Linked DNA regions of Homo sapiens. The protein of the gene in region 1 interacts with the protein of each later gene in a pairwise test. Each region holds a gene or a part of one and is shown on either strand. Other genes may lie near its edges.

Region 1 (3,500 bases):
TCAACAAAATTCAACCCCACTTTCTCCAATAATAAAAAAATGTTTTTTTAAACTGTTACTTTTTAAACAACGTGAAACTAATGAAAATTGGTTGCTGCTTTGAGAATCATCTTGTTTGGAGAAAAACATCCTGTGCTTCACCAGTTGCTGCCATGCCTTACAGAGATAAGGTCTGTAGTCTATGTCCACATCACACAGTCGTCGAGAGGCATGAGAAGGTTCTTCTGATGAGCTCGAGGCTTTCTGCATTATAGTTTGTGTCGTTGCAAAAAGAACCAGGCGATAGTCATTTACAAGCTTCTCTAAGCACTGAGAACATTTCCTCAGAGTAGACTCCTGTAAGTTCACACTTTCTCCTCCATTGACGCGGTCTATCCAGTAAAAAGCTGACAGGCTATCCAAAATCAAAAGGCAGAGAGATGGGTGACTACAAAACATACTTTCTAGTGAGTAAAGTGTAAGAAGTAAGTGGGTGCTACTACTGCAGTACACCAAAAAAAATCTTCCCAGGCAGTATTTGATTATTTCTTCAGAGCTTTGGGATAGTCTGTGCTCAAGAATTGTAACTAGCCGGAGCATATCAAAGTGGTAATCTGTATCAATAAATAAGACTTCTACTTCCAGGCCACCTTCTGATTTGGGAAGTATACATCGTGCTGTTAGGTGATAAAGCATTTCTGTTTTTCCTGTTCCTTCTGGGCCATGAAATTCAAGAATATCACCTGTGTAAAATTTAAAAATCTCAGTCAAAATGCAGTAGCTCAAGGGTAGGTTACAAAATGCAAAGTCTGCAAAAAAGTTTAAAAAGACACTTACTGGAATGTGAAAGAAAATCTAAATTCACTTTTGCCAAAATGGAGCTGTACAAGCAAATACAATAAATAAGGAAATTAGAGCCTGGTGGGAAGGTTGGAAGAGGCTAGGGGACTCTCCTCCGGCCAGGCTCACATGCACTCCCACTTCAATTTGTAAGATTCAAAAATAAAGAGCCACAGATCTAGGGCCTTTCCAAAATCTGATGACTACAGTACACACCCTTTCTGGTAGTTGATTACACTATATCCATTCTTCCCTTCTTCCTAAAGTATAAAACCCAATTTGATGGGGAGGGAAATGTGTCCACTTTAAAACTATTTTTCATAGTCTCCTTTGAAAAGCAAGGTTACCAGGTAACACAGCTGTCGCCAGTGAGATGCAGGCTGCTCTCTGTTGATGATTCTTTCCTATCCAGGGACCCCTTCTGCCCTGCCGCACCCTCCTGTGGGGGTGGAGCAGCCATCTGGAAGCAGTGAGGATGAAACCCACCCTTAGGATGGTGGCGTGGAAGACAGAAGGTACCCAGGACTCTGGGCACACGGAGCCCCCACCAGCCACGCACAGCCTGCCTCTGTGCCACTCAGGATGTGAGGAAAACAAGCCTCCACCTGGGCAAGCCACTAAGTTGGACTTCTATGACACGCAGGTGAAGGCACTCCCTAATTAGGTTTCTCAGTGTTATTGATGTTATGGGGGGAACAATTCTGGATTTTGTGGTTTCACACATTATTGAGGCAAGAGCCCATGGCTCTCAGACCCTAAATGCCAACAGCATCCTTCAACTGAAAACAACCTTACACGTTCCCAAACTGCCTTCAGTTATTCTTTGCTATTTGAATTATCTCTGGAAACCATGTCCAGCTGCATTAGAAATTATTTTCCTAGCATTAAAAATCAAAGTCAACTACTCTGAACGTTAAAGACTCCAACTCTCCTTCTATCTAGGCTCGAATAACTAAGGACAGCACAAGTTAAATCAAACAACACTGGGGAAGTTGCCTTGCTTCCAGAGCTTTTCAAAATGCACTCACAGTGGCATTCAACTCTTGCTTGTCATTATTAATTTACGGCTGAACTACCTGATTGGAAACACTATGTTAAAATGCCAATTATTAGCCCCAACCAAATGATGGTCTAAATACGGATTCAAGGGCTGGGCGCAGTGGCTCACGCCTGTAATCCCAGCACTTTGGGAGGCAGAGGCGGGAGGATCACCTGAGGTCAGGAATTCAAGACCAGCCTGGCCAACATACTGAAACCCTACTAAAAATACAAAAAATTAGCTGGGCATGGTGGTGGGCACCTGTAATCCCAGCTACTTGAGAGGCTGAGGCAGGAGAATCACTTGAACCTGGGAGACAGAGGTTGCAGTGAGCTGAGATCACGCCATTGGACTCCAGCCTGGGCGACAAGAGCGAAACTCCGTCTCAAAAAACAAAAACAAAAACACAAAAAAATGCAATTACTTTATTTCTTATTATTTAATTTTAATTTTTTTTTGAGATGGAGTCTTGTTCTGTTGCCTAGGCTGGAGTGCAGTGGTTCAATCTTGGCTTACTGCAACTTTCGCCTCCTGGGTTCAAGCAATTCTCCTGCCTCAGCCTCCCGAGTAGCTGGGATTACAGGCGTGCGCTACCGCGCCCAGCTAATTTTTGTATTTTTGGTAGAGATGGGGTTTTGCCATGTTGGCCAGGCTGGTCTCGAACTCCTGACCTCAGGTGATCTACCCACCTCGGCCTCCCAAAGTGCTGGGATTACAGGTGTGAACCACCGCACCTGGCCTTTCTTATTATTATCAACAAACCGTTGTATATTGGAGTATTCACAAATAATGTATAAGAAATCTAGGCTGGGTACAGTAGCTCATGCCTGTAACTCCCAGCACTTTGGGAGGTCAAGGCAGGAGGATCACTTGAGCCCAAGAGTTCAATATCAGCCTGGTCAATATAGTGAGACCCCAACTCTACAATTAAAAAAAAAAAAAAAAAGCCACCCATGGTGGTGTGCATCAGTAGTCCCAGCTAATTGGGAAGCTGAGGTTGGAGAATCAGTTGAACCCAGGAGGTAGAGGCTGCAGTGAGCCAAGACTGCACCAAATTTCCACCATAATCTTACATACAACTTGCAATTCTAAATTTACCTTAAGAAGAAATTTAAAAAATGATTCCACCTCAGCCTCTCAAGTAGTTGGGACTACAGGCATGTGTCATCATGCCTGGCTAATTTTTGTATTTCTTGTAAAGACTGGGTTCCACCATGTTGCCCAGGCTGGTCTTGAACTCCTGGGCTCAAGTGGTCTGCCTGCCTCAGCCTCCCAAAGTGCTGGGATTACAGGCATGAGCCACCATGCCTGGCTTCAGCTTTCTTATAGCATAGTATGTTATCAGTTCTCATAGACTTCTCTTTTGTATTTAAGAATTCTACACATGGCTGGGCATAGTGGCTCACATCTGTAATCCAGCACTTTGGAAGCTGAAGTGGGAGGATCACTTGAGCCCAGGAGTTCATGACGAGCCTGGGCAACATAGGGAGACCCTGCCTTTACAAAAAATTAAAAAAAAGAAATAGCCGGGCGTGGTAGCATGTGCCTACAGTCCCAGTCTCAGCTACTCAGGGTGAAGTGGGAGCCTGTGAGGTTGAGGCTACGGTGAGCCATGATCATGCCACTGCACTCTAGCCCAGAC
Region 2 (3,500 bases), on another chromosome or scaffold:
TAATCCCAGCTACTCGGGAGGCTGAGGCAGGAAAATCGCTTGAACCTGGGAGGCGGAGGTTGCTGTGGGCTGAGATCATGCCACTGCACTCTAGCGTGGGCAATAGCAAGACTCCATCTCAAAAAAAACAAGGATGATACATCTATAGCCACAGGATGAATATTATACATTAGTTACCAAGAAAAAAAAACAGGGGTGGGTGGATGGGTGTGGTGGCTCACACCTGTAATCCCAACAGTGTGGGAGGCTGAGGAAGGAGGACTGTTTGAGACCAGGAGTTCAAGACTAGCCTGAACAACATAACAACACCTGTCTCTACAATTAAAAAAAAAAAAAATCTGGGTACTGATATGGAAACAACTCCAAGATATGTTACATGAAAAACAGAAGGTACAGGATAGTATGCCACCTGGTGTGAGAAAGGGAAAAAAGGCTAGGCACACGGTGGCTCACACTCATAATCCCAGCACTTTGGGAGGCCGAGGCAGGAGGATCACTTGAAGCCAGGAGTTGGGAGACCAGCCTGGGCAACAGAGCAAGACCTTGTCTTTGCAAAAAAATAAAAATAAAAATTAGGCAAGCATGGTGATGTACTCCTGTAGTCCCAGCTACTCAGGAGACTGAGGCAGGAGGTCACTGGAGCCTGGGAGTTTTAGGCTGCAATCATGCCATAGCTCTCAAGTCTGGGCAACAGAGCAAGACCCTGTCTGAAATAGGGAAAAAAAAAAAGGAGGAAAAATATTTTTAATGTATACTCCTATTTGCTTGCATTTATATAAAGAAACTCTGGATGACTGCCCCAAAACTAATAAAGGGGTAAAATATTTTAAAAAGCATGCTTAATGTACAGGATCTTGGTGGTTGAGGACAGCTGTGGGAACCAGACTGAACACAGTCCTTTTTACATATGATTGTCATTTTTGAACCATGTGCAAACATTACTTATTCAATTTTTTAAAACCAAACATGAAAATAAATAAATGCAACTTAAGCCATATCATGTCATTCCTTTGCCCCAAACCAGTGCTTTCTGATCTCACTAAAAGTGAAAGGCAAAGTGCCCCCATCACCTACAACACACCTCCTAGCCCACTCTGGCTTCACTGCCGATTCCTGAACATGGCAAGCAAATTCCGACCTCAGATCCTCGGTACTAGCTATTCCCTCCACCTGGAGCACTCTTCCTTCCAGACATCAGCTTTGTTCCCTCCCTCCTTACCTCCTTCAAATATCTGCTAAAGTCACCCTACAGAAAATAGCACCCTCATTCCCCATTCTGCTTTTCCACATAGCATCACTCATTGTAATGTATTAAATATATTTATTTACTGTCTCTCTCACTCCCAAAATAGAAGCTTTATTGGGATATGGACTGTTTTGTTCTCTACCACATTCCCTGTACCTAGAACAATGCCTGGCACATAGTAGTTGCTAAATAAGCATTCACGGAATTAATACGATTATGGGGATTGAAGAAGCATATGAGGAAGTTACTATTATTCTCCTTTTACAGATAAGGAAACTGAAGCAGAAAAGCTGAGAAGCAAAGCCAAGATTTAAGTATCTAGTACGTGAGTGTTCATTGACCTTTCAACTTTTGTGGGGCAGAGAGGGGTCTCTGGAGGATACCCAAGTAAATAATTACAGCATTTGCCTGTTTCGGTGGGAAAGATGGGAAATACGGGGGAGAGGAGCTTTCATGACTTCTTACATCTTTTCAAAACCTTGTGAATATGTTATCTATTCATAAAGTAAATTAGTATTCTAAATAAAATATCAATAACCCAGATGTCCTACAACAGATAAATGGTTAAAAAGAGTTTGGTACGTACCATGGAATACTACTCACCAAGAAAAAGAAATGAACTACTGATCCATGCAGTGACTTGGATGAATCTCCAGAGGATATGTGAGTAAAAAAAGCCAATCCCAAAAGATTACATATTGTATGATTTTTTTTTTTTTTTTCCGAGACAGAGTCTTGCTCTGTCACCCAGGCTGGAGTGCAATGGCATGATCTCAGCTCACTGCAACCTCTGCCTCCCGGGTTTCAAGCGATTCTCCTGCCTCGGCCTCCTGAGTAGCTGGGATTACAGGCGTGTGCTACCACGCCAGGCTAATTTTTGTATTTTTTTAGTAGAGACGGGGTTCCACCATGTTGGTCAAGCTGGACTCGAACTCCTGACCTCGTGATCTGCCCACCTCGGCCTCCCAAAATGCTGGGATTACAGGTGTGAATCACTGCACCTGGCCTGTATGATTTCTTTTATATCAGGGGTCCCCAACCCCTAGGTCATGCGCTGGTACCAGTCCAGGGCCTGTTAGGAACCGGGCCACACAACAGGAGGTGAGCAGGGAGCAAGCAAGCATTACCACCTGAGCTCCGCCTCCTGTCACATCAGTGGCATGAGGTTCTCACAGGAGCTGGAGAATCAAATTGTGAACTGCACATGTGAGGGATCTAGGTTGCATGCTCTTTTTGAGAATCTAATGCCTGATGATCTGAGGTGGAACAGCTTCATCCCCAAACCACCCCATCTCCATCTGTGGAAAAATTGTCATCCACAAAACCGGTCCCTGGTGCCAAAAAGACTGGGGACCACTGATTTATATAACAATCTTGAAATGACACAATTATAAAAATGGAGATCAGATGAGTGGTTACCAAGGGTTAAGGTGGGGGTGAAGATGGGAGGGAAGTGGGGCAGCTATAAAAGAGTAACATGAAGGATCTTTGTGGTGATGGAAACGTTCTGTGTCTTGACTGAATCAACACAAATACGGTGGTTATGATGTACTAGAGTTTTGAAGATGGTACCACTGGGGCAAACTGGGTAAGGGATCTCTCTCTGTTACTTCTTAAAACTGCATGTGACTCTATAATTGTCTCAAAATAAAAAGCTTAACAAAAAATATGCAAAAATCTAAGTTAAGAACATCTAGCCAGTACTTTTTGTTGTTGCTGTTTGTTTTGTTTTTTGTTTTTTTTCTACCATCTAGCCAGTACTGTTAATCAGTATATTATCTGGTTTCCTAGACAATGAAGAGTCCGCCACGTGAAGATCTGGAGAAAGATTTGAGATAAGAGAGTTCCAGACAGGGAAACAAGCAATTGAGAAAGCTTAATAGGAAAACAAAACTATCATGTTGAAAAAACAGAAAGTAGACTGGTGTCACTGGAGTATAGTGAGAGACAGGCAGATAATAAAGATGAGATGAAAAGGACAGGCATGGGCCAGGTAATCTAAATCTTTACAGACCACTGTAAGGCATATGAATCTTATGTTTAAGTGGTATATGGGTAGAATCCAATAATTATTAGGTTTCTTTTTTTGGTAAGCCTGAAGACAAGAATCCTATGTACCCAAGGAGATAATAAAAAGCCCAAGGAGGGCAGGCATGGTGGCTCATGCCTGTAATCTCAGCACTTTGGGAGGCCGAAGCAGGCGGATCACAAAGTCAGGAGATCGAGACCATCCTGGCTAACACGGTGAAACCCT

The links.
Region 2: the proteins of XRCC2 (region 1) and NKIRAS1 interact in a two-hybrid assay, tested with the Homo sapiens proteins (one large-scale study listed by BioGRID and IntAct).

The regions. Positions count from the first base shown.
Region 1 is NC_000007.14:152,648,642-152,652,141, forward strand, and holds part of XRCC2 (DNA repair protein XRCC2), read right to left. Parts: intron 723-3,500; coding exon 1-722. UniProt on the Homo sapiens protein: Involved in the homologous recombination repair (HRR) pathway of double-stranded DNA, thought to repair chromosomal fragmentation, translocations and deletions. Part of the RAD51 paralog protein complex BCDX2 which acts in the BRCA1-BRCA2-dependent HR pathway.
Region 2 is NC_000003.12:23,896,491-23,899,990, forward strand, and holds part of NKIRAS1 (NF-kappa-B inhibitor-interacting Ras-like protein 1), read right to left. Parts: intron 1-3,500. UniProt on the Homo sapiens protein: Atypical Ras-like protein that acts as a potent regulator of NF-kappa-B activity by preventing the degradation of NF-kappa-B inhibitor beta (NFKBIB) by most signals, explaining why NFKBIB is more resistant to degradation.